Linked DNA regions of Homo sapiens: regions 1, 3, 4, 5 and 6 are each linked to region 2. Evidence: fine-mapped expression QTL. A gene starts in region 2. Each other region holds a variant in brackets. All regions are shown on one strand. Distances are between the middles of the regions.

Evidence for each region. PIP is the estimated chance that this variant, and not a neighbour inherited with it, causes the effect.
Region 1: its variant is the best candidate, but not a certain one, in a credible set for the expression of UGGT2 in tibial nerve (GTEx, PIP 0.62).
Region 3: its variant is the best candidate, but not a certain one, in a credible set for the expression of UGGT2 in monocytes (Schmiedel 2018, PIP 0.89).
Region 4: its variant is the best candidate, but not a certain one, in a credible set for the expression of UGGT2 in transverse colon (GTEx, PIP 0.53).
Region 5: its variant is the best candidate, but not a certain one, in a credible set for the expression of UGGT2 in monocytes after Pam3CSK4 (Quach 2016, PIP 0.52).
Region 6: its variant is the best candidate, but not a certain one, in a credible set for the expression of UGGT2 in atrial appendage (GTEx, PIP 0.75).

The regions. Positions count from the first base shown.
Region 1 is chr13:95,884,328-95,888,418 of GRCh38, forward strand. UGGT2 (UDP-glucose glycoprotein glucosyltransferase 2) reads right to left here. Exons shown (of 39, transcript NM_020121.4): 26 at 3,565-3,644; 27 at 164-353. Among named protein-coding and RNA genes, the nearest start is that of UGGT2, 170 kb to the right of the region's middle. The variant T/C (reference allele first, on the strand shown) is at 1,843.
Region 2 is chr13:96,051,309-96,055,399 of GRCh38, forward strand. UGGT2 (UDP-glucose glycoprotein glucosyltransferase 2) reads right to left here and starts at 2,093. Exons shown (of 39, transcript NM_020121.4): 1 at 1,847-2,093. The coding sequence starts at 2,004. RefSeq lists an enhancer at 1,855-2,354.
Region 3 is chr13:95,970,360-95,974,450 of GRCh38, forward strand. UGGT2 (UDP-glucose glycoprotein glucosyltransferase 2) reads right to left here. Exons shown (of 39, transcript NM_020121.4): 11 at 2,221-2,312. Among named protein-coding and RNA genes, the nearest start is that of UGGT2, 81 kb to the right of the region's middle. The variant AT/A (reference allele first, on the strand shown) is at 1,777.
Region 4 is chr13:96,081,602-96,085,692 of GRCh38, forward strand. No RefSeq gene overlaps it. Among named protein-coding and RNA genes, the nearest start is that of HS6ST3, 6.5 kb to the right of the region's middle. The variant G/A (reference allele first, on the strand shown) is at 2,215.
Region 5 is chr13:95,908,729-95,912,819 of GRCh38, forward strand. All of the region lies in intron 20 of UGGT2 (UDP-glucose glycoprotein glucosyltransferase 2), which reads right to left. Among named protein-coding and RNA genes, the nearest start is that of UGGT2, 140 kb to the right of the region's middle. The variant G/A (reference allele first, on the strand shown) is at 2,072.
Region 6 is chr13:95,927,450-95,931,540 of GRCh38, forward strand. All of the region lies in intron 17 of UGGT2 (UDP-glucose glycoprotein glucosyltransferase 2), which reads right to left. Among named protein-coding and RNA genes, the nearest start is that of UGGT2, 120 kb to the right of the region's middle. The variant A/G (reference allele first, on the strand shown) is at 2,063.

The DNA.
Region 1 (4,091 bases), 170 kb before region 2:
AAAACTTAAAAATCAAAGGAAAGATTGGATCAGGACCTAGAATCATAAAAAAGAATATTCTGGTAAACATTCATAGTATGATTGCTCACTTGCTACAATTGTAATAGCTGATAAGAATTTATCCTGTTTCTCTCTCTTTATATGACTATACACAATAACTTACATCCTTTAAGTGAATATTATCAAGGTCACAGTTGCTGTGCACTGTTTCAACCAACCAGCCTTCTGGAGTAATCATGTTGAGGATTAGGAGGGGTGATTCAGGAATATCCAAAAATTTTGCCACTGGTCCAAGAGAAGAAACGTCATTAGCCCCTGACATCAGTTCTGGTTCCAGAACAAAACGGTAAAAGCTGTTAATAAAACATAAAAATACATAATGTGACCAAAACTGAGATTTTTCTTTTAAAATATTTTCAAAATTGAAAATTGCTTAATGATCTGACCAGAAGTCTACAATCAAAAAGACTAAGATGCATTATACTGCAGAAAAGTTAATGCTTATGAGAAATAGACAATCATTATTTGTTGACACTACTATCTAAGTCTATGTATATTATCTACCATTGTTAACTATTCCTTAATGAACATGATTAGAATCCCTTTAAGATATACCTGACTTATGCAGGTTCTAGGAGTTTATGATCTGTTATTGTATTATGATTTGTATGCATCCTCCTTCAAATCTGACCATGGTCTATTTTTCAGCTATTTTATTAACTTTTACCACCACTAATAATATGAAGAGAAATGGTAGGAAACAAATGAAATTCAAGCTGAAATTCTAGTACCACTTTTAAAAGCTCAACTAAAAACAAATAGGATTAAGTTGAAAGCAACTGCTTAATAGCACTTTTAGACTTAACTTCAGTTTTGCTGTATTTTAACCTCATCCTTCAATATTGTGCACAGAATTATTATGTTATGCTATCAAGGCTAGTGGCTTTTACTATTTTGAGACTGCAGTCAAGGTGTCAGCTGTGCTGTAGTTCTCTCAAGGCTCAACAAGGGTAGGATCTACTTCCAGGTTCTTCTAGTTCCCCAAGGGCTGTCTGAATGAGGACCGCAGTTCCTTGCTGGTAGTTGTCTGCAGACTGCTTGCAGTTACTTCCCAAAAAGGCATCTCCAATATGCTTCAAAAGAGAAGCACACAGAAGAGCCACAGAGAGAGAATGTCAGCAAGACAAAAGTCACAGTCTTTCATAACCTAATTGCAGAAGGGAAATTCCATCACTTTAGCCATATTTTGTTTTATGAGAGCCAAATCACTAGGTCTAGCTCTCACTCCAGGAGAACTTTCAGAGTGTGAGTCCCAGGCAGTGGTGATCACTGGGAGCCATGTTATGCAGATAGACAAAGAAAATAAAAAGAGGAGAAACAGGAGAGAATACAGTCATGAAGTAAATGTTCAAAACAAATTCTTGCTGCAGTGGAAATATCAAAGAAAAAGTATTCTCTGAATGTAGTGAGTAGCAATTTCTTTGTGATTTGGTAAATACAATTTCAGTGGCAAAGAGAAAGTTAAAGAGAAACTGCAGTGGAAGGTACAGTGAATGAGATATGAAGACAGAGTCTGACCATTCTTTGAAGAAATTTAGTTAAGAAGGAATGAAGAAGAGGGAAAAAAAAGACTCTAGAGGAGAGAAAGTTAAGGGAGCAACTTTTAAAAAAATTGAATAACTTTAAGGACTGAATGAAAAAAGCTAGTATAGAGATTAAAGATCCACAAGAGAGAATATGTGATATAGCAAGGATCCAGAACAAACAGGAAAGCATGAGATCAAAACAGAGTGGGAATGTTTAACTAAAAAAGAAGAAAGATGCCTCATTCCTTCCCTACAA[T/C]ACAGGAAGGCTGAGGAAGTATAGCAGTTAAGAGTAAGAAGCTGAGGGGATTCCTGCCCTTAACCTGTCTCATCTCTGAGAAGAATAAATTTACTAAAAGGAAAGGGCTGGGAATAAATGTGTATGCTAGGTTGCTTGATATATGCTACTGAGTTAATAAGATTCTGTTGAACTACTAGTTAAAAAAATAACTGTATACTCTAGTACATTATTTCATTTAGAAAAGTCAATTCTTTCCCTCCCAGTAGATTATGCTTGCTTATATGTTCAGTAATCCTATTCTTTATTACATAATGTGATGTTTTACAGAGAGGACCCCTACTCCTGTGAATAAAAATTCTGTACTTATGGAACTAACAAACCTTTCAATTAGTAGCTAAAAAATTTAAAGTTTTTGTTCAGATGTAAAAAGGCATGTGATAAAATTTAAAATACAAAAGATAAATGAGAAGCATAAAAACTCAATGAGATATATGGACAAGAGTCTTGAGGGACAATGAATAAGTCCTAAACTTTCACTTAAATTTCCCACATTTTCCATTTTATTGCTTTCCAACTATTAAAAATACTTAGGTTTAAAATGCCTGCTCTGGCTGGGCACAGTGGCTCATGCCTATAATCCCAGCACTTTGAGAGAGCAAGGCAGGTGTATCTCTTGAGGCCAGGAGTTCAAAACCAGCCTGGAGAACATGGCAAGACCCCGTCTCTACAAAAATACAAAACAAAACAAAACAAAAAAACTGTGCGTGGTGGCACGTACCTGTAGTCCCAGTTACTCAGGAGGCTGAGGTGGGAAAATCACCTGAGCCTGAGAAGTCGAGGCTACAGTGAACTGTGATGGTGCCCCAGCCTGGACAATGGGAGTGAGAACCTGTCTCCAAAAAAAATAAAAATAAAAATAAAAAAAAGTTCTGCTCAAGGCAACATCTATAGTATGTCAGTTGTAACAAATACAATTTGAAAAGTAAACAAGGAATGAACAGAATGCTACCTGTCTTGTGTGTGTATGCATACATTTTTTGTTTAGAATTACATCATTAAATAATACAGAGATGAGCACATTAAAAAGTCTTAAAAAGCTATACTAGTGCAATGGTACATACCCTGTTTTCTGCCCAATGACACATGAAGGAGAACTGAATATTCCCATCAATAAGAATGGCTCATAATGAATGACAGTGATTCTGATCCACAAAGAAGAGAAAGGGTATATTTTTGTCCCCTCTTGAGAGAGAATGTTATTTCAACAGAAGAGTGTTAATGAGGAATATTTGTATATAATTATAAACAACACTTTTTTATATCTCTGGCAGGTTATTCTAAGCTAATTTTATCCTAATGCCCCCAAATAGTAAATGTGATGATATAATAAAGATCATTTTGGTAATTCTGCTAAACCAAAAATGGTTTAATTCCACCTTATTTCCCATTGATGTATATCTAAATAGGTATTCCTAAATCACATTTCCAAAAATACCTATGAATAAATATAAATCCATGTAAATTCTGTAATTAGGTCAGATCACTTTGCTGAGTTAGGTTATTTTAATTTTTATATCAATTTTAAGTCAGTTAAGGTTAGTAAATAGTCTGACCTTCTGACTTATTTCTTTGAAGCATCTTGTGAAGAAAAGAAAAAACCAGGTCCAGTAACAATGATTGTTTTTTTCTTCTCAGCATTTACAAATTTTTCAAAATGAAATTTTGTTCACTCAGATTTACCTTTCTAAAGGGGCTTCTGAAAGCCTGCCCCTACAGTTCATGAACAACTTTATCTTCATGTTGATAATCTTGCCAAGTACCTATTGGAAAGAAATTCCCATGTTTGATATTAAATAATATTAATAGCTAATATTTATTATGTATTTACTATGTACCAGGTACTATATTAAAACTTTATGTTCATTATCTCACTTGATCCTTACAACGCCCTGCTGAAATAGTACTTTTGCAGTTTAGGTACAGAGAGATTAAGGTCACACAGAAACTCACAGCACAGGCAAGATTTTAATCCAAACAGTTGATTTCAATGTCCCAGGGTTATGCTGCTTGCCCTTTGCCTAAAGTGACTTTTTTTCATAGTATCTAAATTTCCTTAGTATTGAAGAACAAGGAAAATAATTACTAGAACCTTGATCTGCAAATACAAAGTGGTGACCTTACAACAACGTTGGTGGTGTCCTGATTCTTTTGGGATTTGGAAGTTCTTGGCTACCTACGAATAAATACTTTCTTTTCATTTCCCTGGA
Region 2 (4,091 bases):
ACATCACACACCAGGGCCTGTTGTGGGGTTGGGGGAGCGGGGGATAGCATTAGGAGATACACCTAATGTAAATGATGAGTTAATGGGTGCAGCACACCAACATGGCACATGTATATCTATGTACCTGCACGTTGTGCACATGTACCCTAGAACTTAAAGTATAATAATAAAAAAAATAGCTGGGACTTAATTAAACTAAACAGCTTTTGCACGGCAAAAGGAATAGTCAGCAGAGTAAACAGACAACCCACAAAACGGGAGAAAATCTTCACAATCTATACATCTGAAAAAGGATTAATATCCAGAATCTACAAGGAACTCAAATCAGCAGGAAAAAAAAAACAGTCCCATCAAAAAGTGGGCTAAGGACATGAATAGACAATTCTCAAAAGATATATAAATGGCTAACATGAAAAAATGCTCAACATACTAATGATCAGGGAAACACAAATCAAAACCACAATGCGATACCACCTTACTCCTGCAAGAATGGCCATAATAAAAAAATAAAAATAAATAATAGATGTTGGCGTGGATGCAGCGAACAGGGAACACTTCTACACTGCTGGTGGGAATGTAAACTAGTATAACCACTATGGAAAACAGTGTGGGGAGTCCTCAAAGTACTAAGAGTAGATCTACCATTTGATCCAGCAATCCCACTACTAGGTATCTACCCAGAGGAAAAGAAGTCATGAAAAAGATAGTTGCACAAGTATGTTTATAGCAGCACAATTCACAAGTGCAAAAATGTGGAACCAATCCAAATACCCATCAATCAACGAGTGGATAAACTGTGGCATATATATGATGGAACACTACTCAGCCATAAAAAGGAATCAATTAATGGCATTCACAGCAACCTGGATGAGATTAGAGACTATTATTCTAAGTGAAGTAAGTCAGAAATGGAAAACCAAATATAGTATGTTCTCACTGATATGTGGGAACTAAGCTATGAGGATGCAAAGGCATAAGATTGACACAATGGACTTCGGGGACTCGGGGGAAAGGTTGAGAAGGGAGTGAGGGATAAAAGACTACAAATTGGGTGCAGTGTATATACTGATGGGGTGATGGGTGTACCAAAATCTCAGAAATCACCACTAAAGAACTTACTCATGTAACCAAACACCACCTGTTCCCCAATAAACTATAGAAATGAAAAAAAAAAAGAACTTTTAGCATCAAATACATGAACTTATGTGGAGTCATGGAGTCTCTTTTTAGGGACACACACTGTTGCTGTGGTGAACAGCCATTAAGTCATTGGTGTAAAACTTCATTTTTGCTAAGAGAAAGAACTTTCTAATTTTACTCAACTAGAATACTAAAGGGCAAAATGCAATAGCTACAAGTTTTGTTCTGCAGAGTAAATGACAGGTCATGAACTAATTCCGTTGGAAGAGATACAGGAAAAATATTACCTTGCAGGAAGCTGCCCTCCCCATAGTAAGCCTAGGAGCTGATGGTATGATGTCATCATTACGAAACTAGGTACTTTAAGCACTGTCTGAACAGAACTGCCTACCCCAGTAGAAGCTCTTGCGTTAAGTGCCACGCGTAAATGCTAATACATCCCAACGTATTAAAGCAGGGCAGGGAAGCTTTAAAAATCGTAGGTAAAGTAAGACTGAGGGGGAAAGGAACTGCAAGTGAGTGCTGCACGGGAACCGAGAAGCCGCCCCGGGTCGGGAAGGAAGGAGGTGGTGATGCTCAGGGCCAGAGCGGGGGCGTCTGGAGAACCCGGGTGGGAGCCAGACACCCGCTGCGAGCACGAAGAAAGCGCGGCTGAGGGTGGCAGCGCGCCCACACCCGCCCGGACGAGGGCCCGGCCCGCACCCACCTTGCCTCCAGCAGCAGCGGGGTCTCGGGCCACTTCGCGGCCAAGTGGGCAGTCACCGACTTGGACGCGGCGACCGTCCCGGAGCCGAGCTGCGAAAGCCACAGCGCTGTGGAGCCTAGTAGCAGCCGCACCACGTTCGTGGCTTTCGCTGGCGCCATGGCACGGAGAGAAAAGCGCGAGTCCCTCGGACCCGGTACCCACAGTCTGTGGCCGCCACGCTTCGGCCGGCTCTTCCCGCTGCGCGGCTGCCCACTTCCGGTGGGAGGAGCTCGAGTCCGTTACTGGGTGCCGGGTCCAGACCGGCGCATGCGTGTCCCGCTCCGGCGCGGTTTAGTGGGTGCGGCCTGGAGAGCCCACGCCAGCCGGACACTGGGCCACGTCGGAGCCGCCGGGGCGGCGCCGGGTTGCTGAGCGGCGTCACAGATGCTCCCGCGGGTCCGCTCCCGCGGGTCCATTCCCAGGACTTTGGGTTCTCGGACAGAGGCCTTAGGACACGGGGCGGGAAGCTGGCTCTCCAGACCGAACTAGGGCTCTGGAGTTGCCAAAATCTGGAAGCAAAGTCAGGACCACTTGCATATTGTCCACCTTTTACATAGGAGGAAAATAAGTCCAGTTAAAGTTGAAGTCCCCACCTCACGCAGTTCTCAAGTGTTACTACAGGTTGGAATCACCTGGGAGAGCTTTTATAAGGCCGCCGCCAAGGCCACGCCCCGTACCTGAGAATCTCGGGAGGGGGGGTGAGATGCGGCATCAGTAGTATTAGTTAAAATCCGCAGGCCGGGCGCGGTGGCTCACGCCTGTAATCCCAGCACTTTGGGAGGCCGAGGCGGGCGGATCACGAGGTCAGGAGATCGAGACCATCCTGGCTAAAACGGTGAAACCCCGTCTCTACTAAAAATACAAAAAATTAGCCGGGCGTAGTGGCGGGCGCCTGTAGTCCCAGCTACTTGGGAGGCTGAGGCAGGAGAATGGCGTGAACCCAGGAGGCGGAGCTTGCAGTGAGCCGAGATCCCGCCACTGCACTCCAGCCTGGGCAACAGAGCGAGACTCCGTCTCAAAAAAAAAAAAAAAAAAAAAATCCGCAGGTGATTCCAGTGTCCAATCATGTTAGGAAACCCGTGACTTACGGGTGGCTCTCAAACTTTAACCACTTGCTTGTTAAAACACTGCAGAGTGGTGGGCCTCCCCACAGTGTTTCGGATTCAGTAGAGCCCTTGCGGGGGCCGAGAACTTGCATTTTATTTCTCCCAAGTTCGCAGATAATACTAGTGGCTAGAAATCACACTGGAGCCTTTTCCATTGGAAGGTGTGGTCCAGGGTAGGCTTCAGCTGTGAGCTCAATGGAAATGCAGAAGCTCAGGCCCCGCCCCAGACCTAATGAATCAAGATCTCCAATTTAACGGGAACCACAGGTGATTCCTATGCACAGGAAAGGTGGAGAAGAGTGATTTAGAGGATTACATTTAAAAGTGCACAGAAAAGTGCCAATAAGCCTGAGCATGGTGGCTCACGCCTGTAGTCCCAGCACTTTGGAAGGTCGAGGCGGGAAGGTAGCTTAAGCCGAGGAGGTAGAGGCTGCAGAAAACGGTGATTGCGCCACTGCCCTCCAACCTGGGCGAAAGAGGGAGACCGTGTCTCAAAAAAACAAACAAACAAAAGGCCAATACGTGATAGTTGTTTTGTCAGAGTAAAATATATGGTAAAAGAGTTTAGCGGATGCACGGATTCATTGCTTTTTTTCTCTCCTGTTACTCCTTTGCCCTGCAGGGAAGCTGGATCTCTTGAAGTTGCGGAAACATAGTCATTCCCTTTTTTCGTTTCATTTGCTTAGTCAGTACCCTTCCTTAGAAAACCCTATTCCGCTAAGCAGTTCCACGAATTTCCAGAATAATTTCTCACTTCCAAAGTTTAGCCTTCATTTCCTGATTTATCCTACTTGGTATGATCTATCCTTACTTTAAATTTCCTCTTTATTGTAACTGCCATATAGCACTTAAGTTCTCACTTTAATACTTGAGTACGCTACTTACTTATTTCTCCTGTGAGAGATAGTATATTCCCCCAGAACTCATGCCTTGTTCATCTTTGGCATCCCGTGCAGTACCTAGCACAATACTTCACATTCACATGTTATTTGGGGACTCCATGAAGATTGAAGAACCCTTGCTTTATGGAAAGAATGTAGAAAGCTAAGGCAAATGCACTTCATTTCTATCCATAGTGTATACGAGAAAAATACATTACG
Region 3 (4,091 bases), 81 kb before region 2:
TTTGGTATCTTCATTAATAGCAGGAAAAATATATTAAACTCATTAAGAAATAAGGCAAATAGTTCTAATTAGTTATCCAGAGTAAACTTACATAATTTTAGTGGTAGTAAAAACTTATTATTATATAAAAGATAAAACAACAAAGACTATTGTATTCTTTATCAAAGTAGTGAGGATATGATCAGCCCTGAGAAAGCCAAAAATGAGAAAAAAAATATTAGGTCACTCTTTTGACAAACCTACTACAAAAATAATGTAAGATCGAACAAGACATAAAGTATAAAATTCTAATACAGAGGAAGCTCCATTAAATCATGAAGTTCACGTGTGTTTGAATACAAATTTAAATTTTTTATTACATATAATTTGAAAGTTCTTAAACATAATAGAAAGTATTACTGTAAACAACAACATCAACAATAACCCCATTGACAACAAATTGGGGAATCTAAATGTTTAAACTACTCTTCATCAAGTCTGTGGCTGAGGCGACTATTCAGAGGCAAAAATATAAAAGGGACTCTTTAATGGGCTAGAACAGAATGTTTTAATGTAGATATATAAGACCCTGCTTATGGACTTCATCAGTCCTACTTGCCTTTCTCCCCAGTCAAAGTCACATGTTCTTACTGTCTCAGTCTCCCTGGGGGTGAGATGTAGGCCTTTATAGAACCAATGCTGATCTAATCCTAACCCATGGAGGCTCTGGCTCCTCCCGCTACTCTCAGGATCAGAGCAAGAAGGGCTGGGCCATGTATGGGGCATGTTATTGGTTCTCCACAACCCAGTAATGCAATGACTGAAAGGAGATAGGAAGGGAGCACAAAATAAATCCTTTACTCCTGTTCTTTCCCCACATGGACGATTCCAAAGTATTGGCTGCATAAAACCTCTCTATATATAATGTCTCTGTAATATGACATTTTACTTCCATTTCCTTATTTTCTTCCATTCATCTTCCTCTTTGCATTAATTTTATTCCACATCCTCTGAAGACACAAATATTCTCACATTTTGTCTCTTCCTCTTTTAAGAGAATCATGGTAGCACTAAGCAGTGATCAAATCAATGAGGAATAACAATGTAGCACACATCCTGCAAATCACTAATGACCAGGTGTAGGAGCTGGGGGGTTTTATTTTTTTAATAACCTACAGCCTTCCTAAATTATACGTGAAAATATTCCTGCCATAAAAATTTCCTCATACACTACCTTAGAAAACTTTCTAAAATCTACATACCATTTCACTACTTCCTTTAAACCTGTTTTCACTGCTGCTGGGCACATATATAATTTTTGTTCCCCTGAAATTTACAGGCTAGCATTTACAAACTTCTCTACTCTTTCTATGTGTATTATATGTATCTATCTTATTATTTTTACAATACTAGGTCCAAGAATTCAAGTAACTAAAGAGAAAAGCCCCATTTGAGATAAAACTGTAAAAAATGTTCAGTAAAACTACTTCTCAGTCTTTCCAATATATTTTCCAACGTATTTCCAAACTGGTAAGAATTTAAATAAACAATTCAAATAATTTCACTTCAACAAAAGTATATTCAATTGAATTAAAACTGAACATCTGAATTAAAGTATCATGTATCCTAAGTTCATCTAATGTTTCAAATATTAATTTTAATGTAGTTTTATGTTTCTCTATAAAAGTAACTCTTCTGTTTGGCCCACAACTGTAATTTTGGGTGAGTGACCATTGATAAAGCAAGGACTTCCTAATTCTGTCCTGTTCAAAATTCTGAGCAAAAAAATTTTGAAGA[AT/A]TTTTTTTTTTTTTTTTGACAAGAAACCAGATAGCATCCAGCATTCAAATACAAGCATTTTAAATTCCTCTTGTCAATTTCTGTCTTCTGGGGAAATACCCCATGTTGACTTCAGTCCTTATCTGGTATCTGGTTGTTCAGTCCAGTTCCAAATAACTTCTCTGCAAATCATCAATCTACTCTTCAATAAGAGACAGTTTAGAATAACAAAGTAATTATAGGTCTAACCCTCATCCAAACAAATATCTTGACTGTTTCTCCCAGTTCTGATATTCTAAGACACTTTGGGCTTGCCCATTTTGGTAGAAGAAAGCTGTTTTGTACAATCAAAAACATGTATTTATCTTTAAAGTGATCTTCATATTTTGACTTACACTAAATTCAAGACAATGTTTATTTTTATATAAACCATAGTTCATTTACAGCAATAATTTAATACTTACCTAAAAGCGTCATAAACATCCATATCAACACGAAGGCCATTTATAAATAGACGAGCATCGCCTGGCTGAATTTTAAATCTAACTTGAAGATCCTTGAAGTAGAGCAAAGCAATAGTTAACCAGTGATAGAACAATAGTGACCTATATTAGGGGTCACCATATTATTTCTATAAAGAGTCAGAGAGTAAATATTTTAGGTTTGGCAGGCCATACAGTCTCTGTTGCAATTATTGATCTCTGCCTTTGTATCTTTAGATACTATGTAAACAAATGGACATTGCAATGTTTATTGTAAAAATTAAGCTTTTAGGCCAGGCGTGGCGGCTTACGCCTGTAATGCCAGAACTTTGGGAGGCCGAGGTGGGTGGATCACCTGAGGTCAGGAGTTCAAGACCACCCTGACCAACATGGTGAAACCCCATCTCTACTAAACACAAAAAATTAGCTGGGCGTGGTGGCACATGCCCGTAATCCCAGCTACTTGGGAGGCTGAGGCAGGAGAATCACTTGAATCCAGGAGGCGGAGGTTGCAGTGAGCCAAGATTGCACCATTGCACTCCAGCCTGGGCAACAAGAACGAAACTCCATCTCAAAAAAATAAATAAAATAATAAATAATAAATAAAAATAAAAATTAAGCTTTTATTTATAAAAATAGGTGGCAGACCATATTTGGCCTAAAGGTAGCAGTTTGCCCAGCCCTGATCTCAGTGATGGGGGGAATCTTAAGATAGATTAGAGATAAAATTCAATACCTGAATATTCTGATTTTACAATACATGATATTACAGTTCTAATGTTACAATAATTACTTATCTACATTTCATATAGTGTGTGTATGTGTACATATACAATTTGCTAGTTGGCACATTCCTATTTCTTGAGGCAATGATATGCCAAAAGTAAAACTTTGATTTATGTGTAAATATTTGGAGCTCACTCTAAATTCATAAAAGTTTCCATTAAAGCTATATTTGATTTTTCACTGTCTTTCATTCAGTAAACATTTCCTGAGTGCCTGCTATGTTCTAGAAACATCTCCAGGCGCTAGAACAGTTAACAAAAGTAAAAAGGGGGATGTTCTTGTCACTAAAGCAAAGTAGTCAAGATCACAGTGTAAGTATCCAGTACGGTTGTCAAGATCACAGTGTGAAGATCATGCTTGGTTTAATCCTGATCTTTCTACTTATTAGCTGTTAAGATTTGGGCAAGTTCAAATCACTTTCATAATCCTCAGTTTCCTCATCTATAAAATGGGAATAATTATATCTATCTCACATGTTTGCTATAGTTTAAATGTAATATACATCTATGTCTTGTCACCTATAAAGTGCTCACAAATGAAAGCTGTTATTATCAGGGTAGGCAAATATATTTAGGAGGAAAAACAACCAGTGTATTTCAACATCATATGATAAGTCACATAATAGGGACTTGTGTGAACTACTCTGTAAAGGCAGAGGAAGCAACTAACTTGAAGAGATTCAGAGAAAGCTTGACAATGGTGAATTTTTCTGTACGATTATCACTCAACAGATGAGCTACACACAGAGGAGGGAGAAGAACTTAAAGTATTTCTACTTGTTTTATACAGAATACTGGCAAAAGATTAAACCCTGATATGAAAAGGTTCAGAGGTAAAATTTTTATTTGTCTTTAGCTACTTTAGATGTGCCTATCAAAGTTAATTAAGAAATCCATATTCCAACTTCAAAATCTACAGATGCCTAGTGAATTTATATTTCCTGCTGTTTTCCCCCAATCTGGCATCGAAACTTCACACACCCTGATTGAAGCTTTCTCCAGCACCTCATACATTCGTTTTAGTGGAGCTCAATTGTAAGTACAAAGTACACCAAGCATGCAGATCCA
Region 4 (4,091 bases), 30 kb after region 2:
GACCTTGACTTGGGTTTGGGTTTGGGTACGAAGATTAATGGCTACATTAAACTGTGGATTTTTAAAATATTCAGAATATGCTTCTTGATAAAATAGAAAACTAGAACAATCATAAGCAGAACTCAAAGCTTTACGAAAATGCTCTCAGGACAATAAGTGTTTATACTGCCTGATCCCTTAGAGGAAAAAAAGAGAAGTAATCATACAGGTTTGGAAGATAAAAAGGTTCTATTTAATAACCTTTATAAGGTAGCAAAAATAATTTTGTTGGGTAGCTAATATGCTTCCATGGCAAGGTGACCAGTCTTTTTGATAAATGAATATGTATATTCATATATATATATATAAAATATATGTAATAGAGTTTTGCTTTTATGTGGTATAATTCAACAGACATTTCACTAGGAACATTGGTTTAAATGATAGCAAAAGGTCATACTAAAAAGGTTGTTATCAGTAGTAGGAACACACTGAACGATTTGCCAAAGGAGTCAAAGCTCACTTCACCTTAGATAAAACGTAAACAAGAAGTGTCAGGGTTTTGAAGCTAGGGATATGTTAGCAAGGGATTTTGTGAAAACTCTTTTGGCAATTTAAAGGGAGAACATATTTACTTCTTAACATGTTCAAAGAACATTTATTCAGATGCCTACTGAGTGCAAAGCACTGTGGTAAGTACCTAAAAAACTAAGAGTCCTATTCAAAAGCTGCTCTTAGAAGCTTCTGGATCATCTTTCTGTGCTGTTGAAAAAGGCCATCCTAATGAAGCAAAGAACAATTACCTAAAATATCTCTTAGAGCCTGCTTTAGACATTTGATTTCTTATGATTTAAAAAATGTATCCACATATATGAAGAGAGAGAGAAAAAAATAAAATTCATGGCCAATGTAGAAAAGAGGAGGATTACATCCTGATTTGTGATATAAAACATTAGGAAAGAGAAAACAGTTTTTACCAAATGTGTTTCCACCTAGGATTTTTTTTCCAAAGGTAATAATTAAACTAAAGTTATCTGTCTTGCTGCAGACAAATTAAAGTGTATTTTTAAAGCTTGCTTTCTTAAAATGTAAGTAAACATTTTGAAGCTCAAAGCCATTTGAAAAACACAAACATTCTAGTTTGCTAAGAGAAAGAATAGTCATCTACACTGATTTTCATGCCCAGTCATCTGTTTTGCCTCCCATATTAATGACCTTACCATTCACTTAGCTTTCCAAGCTAGCACACTTTGAGTCATCCTCAATTTCTTCCTCTCTCACCCCTTCCTACTTAGTCACTGAATCCTATTGTTTCTACCTTTGGAATATTTCTCAAATGTGTACACTTCTGTTCCATTGCTATTCCTTTTGTTTGAGGTCTCATTTCTCTCTTGGACCATGGTAATTGCTTATTTAGTCTTTTACAGATTCTGTCAACAAATATTTATTGAGCACTCACTGCTATTATGTTACCTATGTTATTAAAACCACCACATTTTAATCTCCTGTCTAGAATTACTGCATGAACTCTAGATCCTATATCCAGCTATTTATTTGATATCTCCATTTAGCTGTCTCATTAGCAGTCTAAACCTAGCTCACCTAAAGCAGAACTCAAAATTCGCCCTCGCTGCTCCCCACCCTCAACACCTCCTAACTTTTTCTCTCTCATTTTCTTCTTTTTAGTAAATGGAACTATCAGGCTTCCAGGAGCTCAAGAGACACCCCGAGAAACATCTTTGATTCATCCATTGTTCACTTCCTCTTATTCAATCTTTCAGTAAATCCTGTTGATTTGACTTCTAACATCCATCTTGCCATCACTTCTTTCCACCTCTGGAATCAGACTACCTGGTTCAAATCTGAGTACTATCACTTACTATGTTACCTTGATTTCAAATGGTTTCAAAATCAGACTTTTCAAAGGGAAAAAAATGGCATCATTTAAAAATTCTAAAATGTGCCTTTACTATCAAGAGCCAAAGTATAAGGACAGTGAGGAAACGTGTGTTCCTAGTCTTTTTATGTCTTCTAAACTGGCTTTTTTTTTTTTGACAGAGGAAAGATAGGGGGATTTCTAGATACTCGTTAGGAGTGGAATTAATGGCTAGGAAAGAGTTTATAGTCTGCAGTTTGGTGTTTGGTCAGCACCTCACGATGATTTATTTATTACTGGCATTTATTTGGTGGGGGCAATGATAGAATTGTCTTGCATTCACGTGACTTGCAAATATC[G/A]CCCTACATTCAGAAACTGGATTATCCTTTGATGTATAGTAGGATTTCAAGATACAAGTTATGTTTTTTGAGATATTTTATTTTATTTATTTTATTTTTATTTTTATTTTTTTGAGACGGAGTCTTGCTGTGTTGCCCAGGCTGGAGTGCAGTGGCACGATCTAGGCTCACTGCAAGCTCCGCCCCCTGGGTACACGCCATTCTCCTGCCTCAGCCTCCCAAGTAGCTGGGAATACAGGCGCCCGCCACCACGCGCGGCTAATTTTTTGTATATTTAGTAGAGACGGGGTTCCACCGAGATATTTTATGTTATAGAGAAGTATTTTGACCAGACATTTTTTTAAAAGCCTAGTTAATTGGGGAACATTATACTTCCCCAATTTCTTCACTCTAAAAGTCTATAATTTGTCTGGGTGTGTGATTGCTTCAACCAAGGTTTTTCTCTCCTTTTTCTTATATGTCAATTTTTAAGTCAGAATTATTCTTACTTAGCCTATCACTAATTTTAATTCTGGTGTCCACAAACACCTCTGCAATTTTTTTTTTTTTTTTTTTGAGACGGAGTCTCGCTGTCGCCCAGGTTGGAGTGCAGTGGCGCGATCTCGGCTCACTGCAGGCTCCGCCCCCGGGGGTTCACGCCATTCTCCTGCCTCAGCCTCCTGAGTAGCTGGGACTACAGGCGCCTTGCTCTTTTATTTGCTTCTTGAAAAGAATGTCTTGTGCTCTTACTTCTCTATGTCCAAACTTGAGATAGTTAAAAGTCATAAGCATCTGCGAACTTCTTTATGTTGTCTACAGTAGTCAGGTCTCAGCATTTACACGTTGCAATACACAGTGTTTTATTAATTACTTTCTTTTCATGTTTCATTTACATTACAATTAGAGCATTATGTTAATTTCTGAGAAATTGTGTGTAGGTAGATTCTATTATCTATGATGCTTAACTTGAGATCATTAAAGGGATTACTTCAAAACATTTGTTTAATAAAAATGAGTGCTCCATCTGATGGGGTTAAACATCACTGGTTTCCATGCTAACAGGCCCTTGAGAAAGGGCCACAGAAGAGCTGAGGTGGCAGACAGAAGTGGGCTCGCAGTTCAGTGGAGGAAGATGTAGAGCATGTGGACATGACAGCTTAGATTCTAACAAGGCAGCAGAAGACCCAGCAGAAATCCAGGCTTGCACCTGCGATCAGGTAGGAATAACTGCACATGGAGGGGGTGAGGGGGAGCAGCAGGAAAAGGAAACTCCCCTGCAGACCACAATTCCCTTAGCCAGTACGAAAGGGCTTAGCTCACTGCAGGAAAAAGCAAAGAAGAAGGGGAGGGGAGAAACATGAATTTGACTATTTATTCCAAAGATACAGAGGTTAACTCAGAAGTGACTGAATTAACGTAAGTTGAATGCTTCTCATTTCCCTCTGTATCAGGCAATAGAATCTTAAAGGCAAAGTCTCATTTTGTTATTTGAAAATGAAGAAGTGAAATCTTTCCATACTAGGCCCGTGGACTTGTGTCTGTAAATTATTTTCCCCACCATTGCCAGCCTATCCCAAGTCCCCACCATCTCTTGCCTGGAGAACAACAGCCACTTCCTAACTGATTTCTCTGCTTTCTCTTTTGTCTTTCCTAATCCATTCTTCATGGATCCCAGTAAGCTTTTAGTATCAATCAGTCCTGTCATTTCCTCAATGACTACTTTGCACCCACTATCATGGCTCTGACCCCAAACCTCCCTCTCTTTCATTTCTCTATCATTTGTCTGTCTGGAGCCCCCTAAATTCTTTTCTGCTCCAGACCTTTGTGCTTATTGTTCTGCTTAGAAAGCTCTTCTCCAGGATGTCTGGCACGGCTAGACCATTCTAATCCTTCAGGAC
Region 5 (4,091 bases), 140 kb before region 2:
GCTGCATAAATGTCTTCTTTTGAGAAGTGTCTGTTCATGTCCTTTGCCCACTTTTTGATGGGGTTGTTTGTTTTTTTCTTGTAAATTTGTTTGAGTTCATTGTAGATTCTGGATATTAGCCCTTTGTCAGATGAGTAGGTTGCGAAAATTTTCTCCCATTTTGTAGGTTGCCTGTTCACTCTGATGGTAGTTTCTTTTGCTGTGCAGAAGCTCTTTAGTTTAATTAGATCCCATTTGTCAATTTTGGCTTTTGTTGCCATTGCTTTTGGTGTTTTAGACATGAAGTCCTTGCCCATGCCTATGTCCTGAATGGTAATGCCTAGGTTTTCTTGTAGGGTTTTTATGGTTTTAGGTCTAACGTTTAAGTCTTTAATCCACCTTGAATTGATTTTTGTATAAGGTGTAAGGAAGGGATCCAGTTTCAGCTTTCTACATATGGCTAGCCAGTTTTCCCAGCACCATTTATTAAATAGGGAATCCTTTCCCCATTGCTTGTCATTTGACCCAGCCATCCCATTACTGGGTATATACCCAAAGGACTATGAATCATGCTGCTATAAAGACACACGCACACGTATGTTTATTGCGGCATTATTCACAATAGCAAAGACTTGGAACCAACCCAAATGTCCAACAATGATAGACTGGATTAAGAAAATGTGGCACGTATACACCATGGAATACTATGCAGCCATAAAAAATGATGAGTTCATGTCCTTTGTAGGGACATGGATGAAACTGGAAATCATCATTCTCAGTAAACTATCGCAAGAACAAAAAAACAAACACCGCATATTCTCACTCATAGGTGGGAATTGAACAATGAGATCACGTGGACACAGGAAGGGGAATATCACATACTGGGGACTGTTGTGGGGTGGGGGGAGGGGGGAGGGATAGCATCGGGAGATATACCTAATGCTAGATGACGAGTTAGTGGGTGCAGCGCACCAGCATGGCACATGTATACATATGTAACTAACCGGCACAATGTGCACATGTACCCTAAAACTTGAAGTATAATAATAATAATAATAATAATAATAATAATAAAAAAGATTCCTGCCCACTAAAAAAAAAAAAAAAAAAAAACTGTTAAGGGCAACCAGAGAGAAAGGTCGAGTTATCGACAAAGGGAAGCCCATCAGACTAACAACGGACCTCTCAGCAGAAACCCTACAAGCCAGAAGAGAGTGGGGGACAATATTCAACATTCTTAAAGGAAAGAATTTTCAGCCCAGAATTTAATATCCAGCCAAACTAATCTTCATAAGTGAAGGAGAAATAAAATCCTTTACAGACAAGCAAATGCTGAGAGATTCTGTCACCACGAGGCCTGCCTTACAAGAGCTCCTGAAGGAAGCACTAAACATGGAAAGGAACAACCAGTACCAGCCACTGCAAAAACATGCCAAACTGTAAAGACCATTGGTGCTATGAAGAAACTGCATCAATTAACAGGCAAAATAACCAGCAAACATCATAATAACGGGATCAAATTTACACATAACAATATTAACCTGAAATTTAAATGGGCTAAAAGCCCCAATTAAAAGACAGAGACTGGAAATTGGATAAAGAGTCAAGACCCATCAGTGTGCTGTCTTCAGGAGACCCATCTCATGTGCAGAGACACACATAGGCTCAAATAAAGGGATGGAGGAAGATCTACCAAGCAAATGGAAAGAAAAAAGAGCAGGGGTTGCAATCCTAGTCTCTGATAAAACAGACTTTAAACCAACAAAGATTAAAAGAGACAAAAAAGGCCAGTACATAATGGTAAACGGATGAATTGAACAAGAATAGCTAACTATCCCAAATATATATGCACCCAATACAGGAGCACCCAGATTCATAAAGCAAGTCCTCAGAGACCTACAAAGAGACTTAGACTCCCACACAATAATAATGGGAGACTTTAACACCCCACTGTCAATATTAGACAGATCAACAAGACAAATGTTAACAAGGATATCCAGGACCTGAACTCAGCTCTGCACCAAGCAGACCTAACAGACATCTACAGAACTCTCCACCCCAAATCAACAGAATATACATTCTTTGGAGCACC[G/A]CATTGCACCTATTCTAAAATCGACTACATAACTGGAAGTAAACCACTCTTCAGCAAATATAAAAGAACACAAATCACAACAAACTGTCTCTCAGATCACAGTGCAATCAAATTAGAACTCAGGATTAAGAAACTCACTCAAAACCACTCAACTACATGAAAACTGAACAACTTGATCCTGAATGACTACTGGATAAATAACGAATGAAGGCAGAAATAAAGATGTTCTTTGAAACCAACGAAAACAAAGACACAACGTACCAGAATCTTTGGGACACATTTAAAGCAGTGTGTAGAGGGAAATTTATACTACTAAATGCCTATAAGAGAAAGCAGGAAAGATCTAAAATCAACACCCTAACATCACAACTGAAAGAACTAGAGAAGCAAGAGCAAACACATTCAAAAGCTAGCAGAACGCAAGAAATAACTAAGATCAGAGCAGAACTGAAGGAGATAGAGACATAAAAAACCCTTCAAAAAATCAATGAATCCAGGAGCTGGTTTTTTGAAAAGAACAAAATTGATAGACTGCTAGCAAGACTAATAAAGAAGAAAAGAAAGAAGAATCAAATAGACACAATAAAAAATGATAAATGGGATATCACCACTGATCCCACAGAAATACAAACTACCATCAGAGAATACTATAAACACCTCTACGCAAATAAACTAGAAAATCTAGAAGAAATGGATAAATTCCTGGACACATACACCCTCCCAAGACTAAACCAGGAAGAAGCTGAATCTCTGAATAGACAAATAACAGGCTCTGAAATTGAGGCAATAATTAATAGCCTACCAACTAAAAAAAGTCCAGGACCAGATGGATTCACAGCCGAATTCTACAAGAGGTACAAAGAGGAGCTGGTACCATTCCCTCTGAAACTATTCCAATCAATAGAAAAAGAGAGAATCCTCCCTAACTCAACTTATGAGGCCAATATCATCCTGACACCAAAGCCTGGCAGAAACACAACAAAAAAAAGAGAATTTTAGACCAATATCCCTGATGAACATCAATGCAAAAATCCTCAATAAAATACTGGCAAACCAAATCCAGCAGCACATCAAAAAGCTTATCCACCATGATCAAGTGGGCTTCATCCCTGGGATGCAAGACTGGTTCAACATATGCAAATCAATAAATGTAATCCATCATATAAACAGAATCAACAACAAAAACCACATGATTATCTCAATAGATGCAGAAAAGGCCTTTAACAAAATTCAACAGCCCTTCATGCTAAAAACTCTCAATAAACTAGGTATTGATGGAACATATCTCAAAATAATAAGAGCTATTTATGACAAACCCACAGCCAATATCATACTGAATGGGCAAAAACTGGAAGCATTCCCTTTGAAAACGGGCACAAGACAGGGATGCTCTCTCTCACCACTCCTATTCAACATAGTGTTGGAAGTTCTGGCCAGGGCAGTCAGGCAAGAGAAAGAAATAAAGGGTGTTCAATTAGAAAATGAGAAAGTCAAATTGTCCCTGTTTGCAGATGACATGATTGTATATTTAGAAAACCCCATCGTCTGAACCCAAAATATCCTTTAGCTGATAAGCAACTTCAGCAAAGTCTCTGGATACAAAATCAATGTGCAAAAATCACAAGCATTCCTATACACCATTAACAGACAAAGAGAGAGCCAAATCATGAGTGAACTCCCATTCAGAATTGCTACAAAGAGAATAAAATACCTAGTAATCCAACTTACAAGGGATGTGAAGGACCTCTTCAAAGAGAACTACAAACCACTGCTCAAAGAAATAAAAGAGGACACAAACAAATGGAAGAATATTCCATGCTCATGGATAGGAAGACTCAATATCATGAAAATGGCAGCACTGCCCAAGGTAATTCATAGATTCAGTGCCATCCCCATCAAGCTACCAATGACTTTCTTCACAGAATTGGAAAAAACTACTTTAAAGTTCATATGGAACCAAAAAACAGCCTGCATTGCCAAGACAATCCTAAGCCAAAAGAACAAAGCTGGAGGCATCACG
Region 6 (4,091 bases), 120 kb before region 2:
TATTACAATACATTTTCTTTCTTTTTTTTTTTTTTTTTTATTCTTCAGTTTGGTAAACATTTAATGAGCTCTGTCTCAGGTGTTGGCAATTTCACTTCACAACCAGAATCATGGTAGTAACCATTTCTTGAGCACCTATTGTGAGCAGGACAATTCTCATTAATTAACTCACTGAATTTTTTTGTTTGTTTGTTTGTTTGCTTTTTTGTTGTTTTTTTAAATTTTTTTAGTATTTATTGATCATTCTTGGGTGTTTCTCGGAGAGGGGGATTTGGCGGGGTCACAGGACAATAGTGGAGGGAAGGTCAGCAGATAAACTTGTGAACAAAGGTCTCTGGTTTTCCTAGGCAGAGGGCCCTGCCGCCTTCCGCAGTGTTTGTGTCCCTGGGTACTTGAGATTCGGGAGTGGTGATGACTCTTAACGAACATGCTGCCTTGCAGGGTCTGTTTAACAAAGCACATCTTGCACCGCCCTTAATCCATTTAACCCTTAGTGGACACAGCACATGTTTCAGAGAGCACGGGGTTGGGGGTAAGGTTATAGATTAACAGCATCCCAAGGCAGAAGAATTTTTCTTAGTACAGAACAAAATGGAGTCTCCTATGCCCACTTCTTTCTACACAGACACAGTAACAATCTGATCTCTCTTTCTTTTCCCCACATTTCCCCCTTTTCTATTCGACAAAACCGCCATCGTCATCATGGCCCGTTCTCAATGAGCTGTTGGGTACACCTCCCAGACGGGGTGGCGGCCGGGCAGAGGCGCCCCCCACCTCCCGGACGGGGCAGCTGGCCGGGCAGGGGCTGCCCCCTACCTCCTGGACGGGGCGGCTGGCCGGGCAGGGGCTGCCCCCCACCTCCCCGACGGGACGGCTGGCCTGGCGAGGGCTGCCCCCCACCTCCCGGACAGGACGGCTGCCGGGCGGAGACGCTCCTCACTTCCCGGACGGGGCGGCTGCCGGGCGGAGGGGCTCCTCACTTCCCAGATGGGGCGGCTGCTGGGCGGAGGGGCTCCTCACTTCTCAGACGGGGCAGCCGGTCAGAGACGCTCCTCACCTCTCAGACGGGGTGGTGGCGGGGCAGAGACACTCCTCAGTTCCCAGACGGGGTCGCGGCGGGGCAGAGGTGCTCTTCACAGCCCAGACGGGGCGGCGGGGCAAAGGCGCTCCCCACATCCCAGAAGGTGGGTAGCCGGGCAGAGACGCTCCTCACTTCCTAGACGGGATGACGGCCGGGAAGAGGTGTTCCTCACTTCCCAGACTGGGCGGCTGGGCAGAGGGGCTCCTCACATCCCAGATGATGTGCGGCCAGGCAGAGATGCTCCTCACTTCCTAGACGGGGTGGCGGCCGGGCAGAGGCTGCAATCTCGGCACTTTGGGAGGGCAAGGCAGGCGGCTGGGAGGTGGAGGTTGTAGTGAGCCGAGATCATGCCACTGCACTCCAGCCTGGGCAACATTGAGCACTAAGTGAGCGAGACTCCATCTGCAATCCCGGCACCTCGGGAGGCCGGGGCTGGCAGATCACTCGAGGTCAGGAGCTGGAGACCAGCCCGGCCAACACAGCGAAACCCCGTCTCCACCAAAAAATACGAAAACCAGTCAGGCGTGGCGGCGCGCGCCTGCAATCCCAGGCACTAGGCAGGCTGAGGCAGGAGAATCAGGCAGGGAGGTTGCAGTGAGCCAAGATGGAGGCAGTACAGTCCAGCCTCGGCTTGGCATCAGAGGGAGATGAGGGAGAGGGGGAGGGAGAATACATTTCCTTGTAAAAATTACAACTTTTTCCAATTAAGCAATTTTAGATGCAATTATGCCTAAGATAAATTTAATTAAATATATTTTTAAAGAATTTCAGCTTTTATTTTAGATTCGAGGGTACACATGCAGATTGGTTACAACACAGGTGTATCATGTAATGCTGAAGTTGGGGTTATGACTGATCCCATTACCCAGGTAGTTAGCATAGTACCAGATAGTTTTCCAACCCTTCCCTGACTTTTTCCTTCCCTCTCCCCTCTAGAAATCCCCAGTGTCTCTTGCTGCCATCTTTATGTCTATGAGTACC[A/G]AATGTTTAGCTCCCACTCATAAGAGAGAACATGCAGTGTTTGGTTTCCTGTTTCTGTGTTAGTTTGCTTGGCCTCCAGCTGAGTCCATGTTGCTCCAAAGGGGACGATTTCATTTTTAATGGGTGCGTAGTATTCCATGGTGTATATATGCACCACATTTTCTTTAACCAATCCACCACTGATGGACACCTAGGCTGATTCTACATCTTTGCTATTATGAATAGTGCTGCAGTGAACATACATGTGTCTTTTTGGTAGAACGATTTATTTTCCTCTGGAGATGTACCCAGTAATGGGATTGCTGGGTTGAATGGTAGTTCTGTTTTAAGTTCTTTGAAACATCTACAAACTGCTTTCCAAAGGGGCTGAACTAATTTACATCCCCACTAACAGTGTATATGCGTTCCCCTTCCTCCTCAGCCTCACCAGCATCTGTTGTTTGTTCACTTAATAACAGCCATTCTAAATGGTACGAGATGGTGTCTCCTTTTGGTTTTGATTTGCACTTCTCTAAGGATTAGTAGTGTTGAACATTTCTTTATATGCTTGTTGGCCGCCTGCGTGTCTTCTTTTGAGAAGTACCTGTTAATGTCATTTGCCTACTTTTTAATGGGGTTATTTATTCTTTGCTTGATTTATTTGCTACTTATGGATATTAGAATTTTGTCGGATATACAGTTTGTGAATATTTTCTGTATATTCTGTAGGCTGTCTGTTTACTCTGTTGCGAGTTTCTTTTGTTGTACTCTTTAATTAATTAGGTCCCACTCGTCAAATTTTTGTTTTTGATGCAATTGCTTTTGAGATCTTAGCCATAAATTCTTTCCCAAGACTGATGTCCAGAACGGTGTTTCCTAGGTTTTCTTCTAGAATTCTTATAGTTTTAAGTCTTATACTTAACTGTTTAATCCATCTTGTTAAGTTTTGAACGTGGTGAAAAGTAGGGGTCCAGTTTTGTTTGCATATGGCTAGCCAACTATCCTAGGACCATTTATTGAATCGAGGACCCTTTTCCCACTAATTTTCATCAACTTTTCAAAGCTAAAATGTTTGTAGGTGTGTGGCTTTATTTCTGGGTTCTCTACTCTGTTCCATTAGTCTATGTGTCTATTTTTGTACCAGTACCATGCTGCTCTGGTTACTGTAGCCTCATAGTGTACTGTGAAGTTGGGTAATACTGTGTCCGGAATTGGTGGGTTCTTGATCACACTGACTTCAAGAATAAAGCTGTGGACCCTCGCGGTGAGTGTTACAGTTCTTAAAGATGGAGTGTCCAGAGTTTGTTCCTTCTGATGTTCAGATGTGTTCGGGGTTTTCTCCTTCTGGTGGGTTGGTGGTCTCGCTGGCTTCAGGAGTGAAGGTGCAGACTTTTATGGTGAGTGTTACAGCTCTCAAAGGCAGCACGGACCCAAAGACTGAGCAGCAGAAAGATTTACTGCAAAGAGCAAAAGAACAAACCTCCCACAGCATGGAAAGGGACCCAAGCGGGTTGCCACGGCTGGCTTGGGCAGCCTGCTTTTATTCCCTTATCTGGCCCCACCCACATCTTGCTGATTGGTCCATTCTACAGAGAGCTGATTGGTCTGTTTTACAGAGAGCTGATTGGTCCGTTTTGACAGGGTGCTGATTGGTGTGTTTACAATCCCTGAGCTAGCCACAAAAGTTCTCCAAGTCCCCACTAGATGAGCTAGACACAGCACTGATTGGTGCATTTACAAACCTCCAGCTAGACACAGGGTACTGATTGGTGTGTTTACAAATCTTGAGCTAGACACAGAGTGCTGATTGGTGTATTCACAATCCCTCAGCTACACATAAAGGTTCTCCAAGTCCCCACTAGACTCTGGAGCCCAGGGGCTTCACCTAGTGGATCCCACACCTGGGCCGCAGGGGGAGCTGCCCGCCACTCCCGCACCTTGCACCGGCACTCCTCAGCCCTTGAGCGGTCAATGGGACTGGGCGCCGCGGAGCAGGGGGCAGCACTCGTCGGGGAGGCTCGGGCTGCGCAAGACCCCACGGTGCCGGGGC